Linked DNA regions of Homo sapiens. The protein of the gene in region 1 interacts with the protein of each later gene in a biochemical or structural test. Each region holds a gene or a part of one and is shown in the gene's direction. Other genes may lie near its edges.

Region 1 (3,746 bases):
TGGTTAAATACAGCATTGAGTGGAGCACCAGCCATGAGCCCTGTTGGCGAGGTGACCCATGAGGGTTGGGGTGGAGGGCCAAGGAGCTGGGTGGGGTGCCAAGCCTCTGTCCCCACCCCAGGCCCAGATGAAGGACTGCATGCGCGAGCTGGATGACACCCGCGCCTCTCGTGAGGAGATCCTGGCCCAGGCCAAAGAGAACGAGAAGAAGCTGAAGAGCATGGAGGCCGAGATGATCCAGTTGCAGGAGGTGGGTGGGGCTGCAATGGAGAGCGGCACCGCTGCCCTGCGGCCAGCAGGTGGCAGCGTGGGGCTTTCAGCTGAGGACAGGGCTGGAGTCCTACTGGGCTCCAGGAATTGGCTGGGGATGGCTCTCAGGTTACATAAGGATTCCCTCCAGGGTTCCGTTTCATAGCGGGGCTCCCTCGTATGATCAGAGTGTGTGTGTGTGTGAAACTGGCATCCCTCACATGAGATGAGGCTTTGTGGCCACCACCACCTCCTGCTGTGAATGCTGCCTGGTGAGAAGGGGTCTGAGCGTCCCCTCGGCCGCCCTGCCCGTCGCACCTGAGCCCGTCCTGAAGTGTTTCCCAGGTCTGGAGGGTGCCCTGCAGCGTGATGTGCCGGCTGCGAGTGCGTCCAGGGTGTAGCCATCTGCCTGTGGCCTCCAGAGCTGACTCCAAGCTCTGGCTTACCCAGAACAGGGAGGGGCCGCCCTGAGTGACTCTGTCCACGTGGTCTCCCTGGTTAGGCCAGGACACTTCTTACTTATCGCCATACCCTGGCACCTGGCTTGATTCCTAGCACTTAAATGTAAGAGTTTTATAAACATATGGTGTTTAAGCTATATCTTCAGGGGGGCACCAGCCCTGTGAGCTAGAGGGTTTCTGGAGGAAGGGCTTCGTGGGGAGGTGGGCCTGGGGAAGGGCTTGAGGGGAGGGTGCCTGGGGCTGGGAAGGATGGTCTTGTGGGGCTGTGGCTGCCTTTAGGTCACACTCTGGGTCTTTGTGGCAGGAACTGGCAGCCGCGGAGCGTGCCAAGCGCCAGGCCCAGCAGGAGCGGGATGAGCTGGCTGACGAGATCGCCAACAGCAGCGGCAAAGGGTGAGCTGAGTGAGGGGGCAGAGTTGGGGGGGACCAGGTGTGTCCCCAGGGTAGGCCCCTCACTTCTCCCGCCCACCCCGCAGAGCCCTGGCGTTAGAGGAGAAGCGGCGTCTGGAGGCCCGCATCGCCCAGCTGGAGGAGGAGCTGGAGGAGGAGCAGGGCAACACGGAGCTGATCAACGACCGGCTGAAGAAGGCCAACCTGCAGGTGGGTGCCAGGACTTCTCCCACTCTGGGCTCTGGCTGGAGCCACCACGGCAGAGCTGGCCTTGGACCCAGCCGGCAGAAGCACAGGCCAAGTGCCAGCTGCTCCCCAGGCGCTTAGGGGAAAATGTCCAGGCACCTGGACCTGAAAGGTCCCCCTCTGGCTTCTGTGTTGGGTGTTCAGAAGTTTCTAATCTTCCCTTTTCTGGGAGACCCAAGACTCTGGACCCCAAGGGTTTGGTGGGATCCTGCTGCCACCTTCCTCTGGCCCTGCTCATGCCCTCCAGCCAGGGCCCCAGCCCTCCCCAAGGTCACTGGCCCTTCTTCTGCAGATCGACCAGATCAACACCGACCTGAACCTGGAGCGCAGCCACGCCCAGAAGAACGAGAATGCTCGGCAGCAGCTGGAACGCCAGAACAAGGAGCTTAAGGTCAAGCTGCAGGAGATGGAGGGCACTGTCAAGTCCAAGTACAAGGCCTCCATCACCGCCCTCGAGGCCAAGATTGCACAGCTGGAGGAGCAGCTGGACAACGAGACCAAGTACGTGCCCCTGGCCCCGCCCAACCCCAGCTGTCCTGGAAAAAACTCTGGCCCCCCTGCAGTCCTGCCCAAATCTGGGCCACAACCAGCTCTCTGTCTCCTGAGCCTGGGGCTGTTTCCCTCCCTCCTGATGGGGCCCTCATCCCTTCCACAGGTTGGGTGGTTGGGGGAGCTTGTGGGGTTTGAACAGGATTCTCTGTTCCACCTCTAAAGCCAGGAGTTTTGGTGGCTGTGTCTGAGAGTGAATCAGAGCAGGAGGTACAGGGGGGTCCTGCCCACTAGGACAGTTGTCCTATGGGCTCAGCAGGACTGAGACTTCCTTGGAGGGAATGGGGTTTACAGTAGGCCCCCAGACCTCTTTTCCAGTTACATAGATGCTCTTTGAGGTGTGTCGCTTCCCTTACCTGAGCCCATTTCCTCATCTGTAAATGGGGCTATTTGCAGTGCCCGTCGTAAGAAGCCGGGTACACATAGGTGTCTAGCAAAGGCCTCCCTACGTGATCCCTAGATGCCAGTGAGCCCCGGGGAATGGGTGGTCCTGGTTAGGGCTTGTTGGCCGGACCCTCTGAAGGAGGGTGTTCCCTCTGAGCCACCTTGTCTGTCATGCAGGGAGCGCCAGGCAGCCTGCAAACAGGTGCGTCGGACCGAGAAGAAGCTGAAGGATGTGCTGCTGCAGGTGGATGACGAGCGGAGGAACGCCGAGCAGTACAAGGACCAGGTGTGGGCGCTGGTGGGGCAGTGAGAAGGGCAGCGGGGCTGGGCAGCAGATGGGGTGACAGGCAGGGCAGTGGGGCTGACTGGCTGCACGCCCAGAGCCCCTAACCGGGGCCACGGGCCACACGTCCATCTCCGCAGGCCGACAAGGCATCTACCCGCCTGAAGCAGCTCAAGCGGCAGCTGGAGGAGGCCGAAGAGGAGGCCCAGCGGGCCAACGCCTCCCGCCGGAAACTGCAGCGCGAGCTGGAGGACGCCACTGAGACGGCCGATGCCATGAACCGCGAAGTCAGCTCCCTAAAGAACAAGCTCAGGTGAGCCGCCCTGCCCACCCGCCCCTTTGCCTCGGCACTTCTCTCAAAAGGTAGCTTGTTCCTCAACCAGAGCCCACAAGCAAGGCACGAATGTCACCAAGAAAGGACTGCACAAAGCAATCCCTGCCCCTTCTGGCTCCTTGCCTTTGAGGCTTTAGCTTAGTGTTTTGAACACACAGTAAACTCTAGGTAGTTTATTCCCAGCTGTCCTAAAAGTCTATTGTCTTTTGAATTGGAAGTTGCTTGAGGCCACCTGGCCCAGTCCTGGCACATGTTAGGTGCCTCAGTTAAATATCTGCAAAACGAATGTGAGCCTCATGAGCAATGCCTACAGAGGTTAAAAACGCTCCTTTGCGTTTCTCAGGGAGTGTTAACACTCAAGAAGTAGTGAATGTTTGAAGCAGAGGATCTTATTCTCTGAGATTCTCATTTCTTACGTGTTTTTTTGTGGGTTTTTTGAGACTCTCATTTTGTGTTTTTTGAGATACTCATTTCTTACATGTTTTTTTCTTATGTGTTTACGTGTTTTTTTTATTTTTTTTGTTTTTTTTTTTTGAGACGGAGTTTCGCTCTTGTTGCCCAGACTGGAGTGCAATGGTGTAATCTCGGCTTGCTGCAACCTCTGCCTCCCGGGTTCAAGCGATTCTCCTCCCTCAGCCCCTGGAGTAGCTGGGATTACAGGCATGCACCACTATGCCCGGCTAATTTTTGTATTTTTAGTGGAGACGGGGTTTTACCATGTTGGTCAGGCTGGTCTCAAACTCCTGACCTCAGGTGCTCCACCCGCCTCGGCCTCCCAGAGAGCTGAGATTACAAGGATGAGCCACCGTGCCAGGCCTTCATGGGGCTCTTTTTGTAAGCATAAGTAGTC
Region 2 (3,746 bases), on another chromosome or scaffold:
GAGATCTGGGTAGGGTGGTTGGAGCCTGGGAATCTGCACTTTTGACAAATGCCTCAGATGTTTCTGATACAGCTTGGGAACCAAAGGCAGCTTGTAAACTAGTACATTCAATGCTTTAAGCACTTCACATTGCCCTTGTATTTCAGGCTCTAAATGCCTTGAAGCTTGATCTGAAAAGAATATATGATCATCCTAACATGTAGGTTTACCAAAGATGGTAAACTAGAAGATGGTAGACTTCTTACAAATCTTGAGTTCCAAATGGCTACTCTTCTTGGTGGGTCTGAAGATTTCTGAGAACTCTCTGACCCAGTCACTGTAAGAGACCTAACAAAGAAATTGTATGGAAGACAGAGATCGAGAAGGATTTACTTGCCTTAGAAGAGCTTTCAGAACCTGTTAACTGTTTACAGATTAACGCTTTAAAGAAGATGGGTTAAGGAGAGGAAAGGAGATTAAATGTGTTTATAGAAGAACAACAAATGCCTAGCACTTAGGGAGGCTGAAGTGGGTGGATTGCTTGAGTTCAGAAGTTCGAGACCAGCCTGGGCAACATGGTGAAACTCCGTATCTACAAAAATTACAAAAATTAGCCAGGTGTAGTGGCTTGCACATGTAGTCCTAGCTACTTGCGGGGGCTGAGGCTGGAGGATTGCTTGAGCCCAGGAGGTGGAGGTTGCAGTGAGCCGACATAGTGCCACTGCACTCCAGCCCGGTGACAGAGCGAGACCCTGGCTCAACAACAACAGCAACAACAACAAAAAGAAAAACAACAAAATGCCAATACACATATGAGAGATTACAATTTTCCAATAAACAAAGAAATGCTTATTAAAACCACATTGAGAAATGAGGGGAAAAAACCTGTAAACTGTCTGCAAATGTGAATTCACCAGGCAAAAATTCATAATAAACTAAATGAGTAGGTGTCCCTAATTTTAAGTCGGTTGTCAGGGATGAATGACTAGCATTGTTAATTACACTTGTAATAATGTGAGCATCATTTTGCCTGTGTGCTTTGTGCCACCTCTGCCAACACCCTGGGATCCACCCCAAATCACTGACCACAACCTTAATCAAGACTGCCTAGGCCGGGCATGGTGGCTCACGCCTGTAATCCTAGCACTCTGGAAGGCTGAGGCATGAAGATCGCTTGAGTCCAGAGTTTGAGACCAGCCTGGGCAACATAGTGAGACCCCATTTCTAAAATAAATAAATAAATAAATAAATAAATAAATAAATAAATAAATAAAATTAGCCAGGCACTGTGGTGTGTGCCTGTAGTCCCAACTACTCTCTGGAGCCTGAAGTGGAAGGATCACTTGAGCCTGGGAGGTCAAGGATGCAGTGAGCCATGATCCTGCCACTGCACTCCAGCCTGGGCAACAGAGCAAGACTCCATCTCTAAAAAAAGAAGAAAGAAAGAAAGAGAGAAAGAAAGAAAGAAAGAAAGAAAGAAAGAAAGAAAGAAAGAAAGAAAGAAAGAGAAGATGCCTATCCAGAGGAATCCACCAAAACAAAACAAAACAAACAAAAAAAATGAAAAAAAAACCAGAAATAACAAAACATTTGTATTGTATGTTACACATGAAGCACATTAAGTGATTTCCTTTGTTCATTGTAACCTTGTGAGGGAACTGGATTTTTGTCCCTATTATTCCCATTGCATAGATAAATAAACTGAGGCTTGACATGCCCAATAAGTCACAGGTAGTAAAAGCAGTGCGTTAGCTTAAATCTCTGATCTCCTCACGCCCCACACTGACTCAACAGTAACAATACATTACTACAAAGGATGTCTGTGATGACAGTGGCCATCCCATTTGATCCTCGTTATTCTTCTTTTATCGAAGGAAACTGAGAGTCACCTTCTTTTCTAGGCAGTTAGGTAACTGAAGCCGAAAGGTATTGTGACAGATCCACTGGGCTGTAAAAGGCAGCGTGTGGAGGTGGAGCCCAGAGTTTCTGCCTCCACAGTTAAAAGCTCAGACAGGGCTTTGGGAGCAGGGCCTGCAAATCAAAGATGAAAGAACAACCTGTCTTGGAGCGCTTGCAGGTAAGCTCAGGCTGCTCGACTGGCGGGGAACAAGGACCTTAGGCGATTCGCTAGATCTGCGCCCCCGGCCTTAGATAGAAGTGGGTGGGGCCAGGGACACTACATCTAACGAGGATCTAGAATAGCTAGGATTTATGAAATACCGGCTTTCAAGTTCTCTGGTCTCCACCCAAAGATGATTATCCTATCTAAGGTAGTGTACGCTACTACAGGGCAGGTCCCGCAGCCCCCGTTTCAAGAGCTGGGATGCGGCCATAGCGGAGGTGGTGTCAGAGCGGAAACCTAGCGGGGGTCGGGGGTTCAGCTCGGGGCGGTGGGAAACACCCCGGGAGAGGAGGCAGCTCTGATTCCGCTCCGGGCCGGAGGGAGAGGAGTTCGGAGGTGGCTTGAGCTGAGAATCCGGAGGAGAGAAGGCGCGTTTTGAGCTGCCACGGGCACAGATCTCAGACCCGGACGCTGACTAGCCGGGGGTCGCGGCTTTCCGAGGCGGCTGGAGAAGTGCCCAGACGGCCGTCCCTCCGCGCCCCTGCGCGTCCCCGTGCGCCCAGTGTTCCCCGTGCAGGAGTCCCGGAGCGATGACAGCGCCGGTTACGGTAAACACCCGCCCCGCCGCAGTCCGCTTCCTTCCCCAACGCGGCGCCGCCCGGACTTGCAACCTCAGGAGTCCCCGCTGGCTCCTCTCCACCGCTGGCATATGGCGCAACAGGAAGTTCTGGGGGCTTGGAGAGGGAGGGTGCTCCTGGCTGTTGGGAGAGCACTGGAGACGCTTGGGAGAGTAGTGGAGATCCTGGTAATTTCTTGGTCTCGCCTATTTTGTCTGGACTTTCTCACACTGTGTATGAAAAATAAGTATAATTGAGCACATTGTATTTCAGGAATAGTCCAGGCAGCTTAGCAAACGTTAGCTCATTTCAGCCTGCTCTGATAAGAACATATGCTCTGGAGCCAGGTAGCCTGAATTAGCATCCCAGCTGCATCACTACCTGTGATTTTGGGCGAGTTAACATCTGTTCTTCGGCTTTCTCATCTGGAAAATGGGATAATACGATTTGTAGTTTCAAGATGAATTGAAATGCTACATGCCATTTGCACTTAGAATAATGCCTGACGTATTTAGCAGGTTGTAAGAGTTTGGGATTCTTAACTATTTCATCCTGGCAGTAATCCTATAAAGTCCAAGTATCCTGTCTCTCCCATCTCCACCGGTTTACAGGTGAGGAAAATGAAACCAAAGGAGAAAAGCAGATTTGAGATTTGAACTCAGGTCAGTGCTTTAAGACACGGAGAACATAAAAAAGAAAAAAAAAAAAGAGAAAAAAAGACACTGAGAACATAGATGTTCTAGTCATACACATCATTTGTGATTATTTGTTCTAGGGAGAAATGATCACCTTTAATTGTTAAAGTGGGAAACGAGTTATTCAATTTCTTTCCCCCTGTATACAGATTTTGATGTTTCACTGTCATCTGCTTTGGGTTCTTACAGGACTGATAAAGCGTTAGCTATTTTGGCCAGACTGGAATCTGGGCTTGACTTTAAGAATCTGGTTGTTTCTTATGTTTCCCACCAGGAGTGGTAACCATCTAGGGTAGGAGTTAGCATGAGTTTTGTTTTTTGGGCCAAAACTGGAGACTAGTACCCTTTGGTAGTGTTAAACTTGTCTTGATAGACAAGGGCATGAATAGCATT

What was found.
Region 2: of the proteins of MYH9 (region 1) and TRPM6, one has a biochemical effect on the other in vitro, tested with the Homo sapiens proteins (one study listed by IntAct).

Annotation. Positions count from the first base shown.
Region 1 is NC_000022.11:36,283,222-36,286,967, reverse strand, and holds part of MYH9 (myosin-9), read left to right. Parts: intron 1-60; exon of another isoform or gene 61-121; coding exon 122-250; intron 251-1,014; coding exon 1,015-1,103; intron 1,104-1,186; coding exon 1,187-1,310; intron 1,311-1,638; coding exon 1,639-1,847; intron 1,848-2,456; coding exon 2,457-2,565; intron 2,566-2,702; coding exon 2,703-2,875; intron 2,876-3,746. UniProt on the Homo sapiens protein: Cellular myosin that appears to play a role in cytokinesis, cell shape, and specialized functions such as secretion and capping. Required for cortical actin clearance prior to oocyte exocytosis. Promotes cell motility in conjunction with S100A4.
Region 2 is NC_000009.12:74,886,134-74,889,879, reverse strand, and holds the start of TRPM6 (transient receptor potential cation channel subfamily M member 6), read left to right. Parts: upstream 1-1,958; 5' UTR 1,959-2,023; coding exon 2,024-2,056; intron 2,057-2,159; exon of another isoform or gene 2,160-2,231; coding exon of another isoform or gene 2,232-2,249; intron 2,250-2,532; exon of another isoform or gene 2,533-2,631; coding exon of another isoform or gene 2,632-2,649; intron 2,650-3,746. UniProt on the Homo sapiens protein: Bifunctional protein that combines an ion channel with an intrinsic kinase domain, enabling it to modulate cellular functions either by conducting ions through the pore or by phosphorylating downstream proteins via its kinase domain.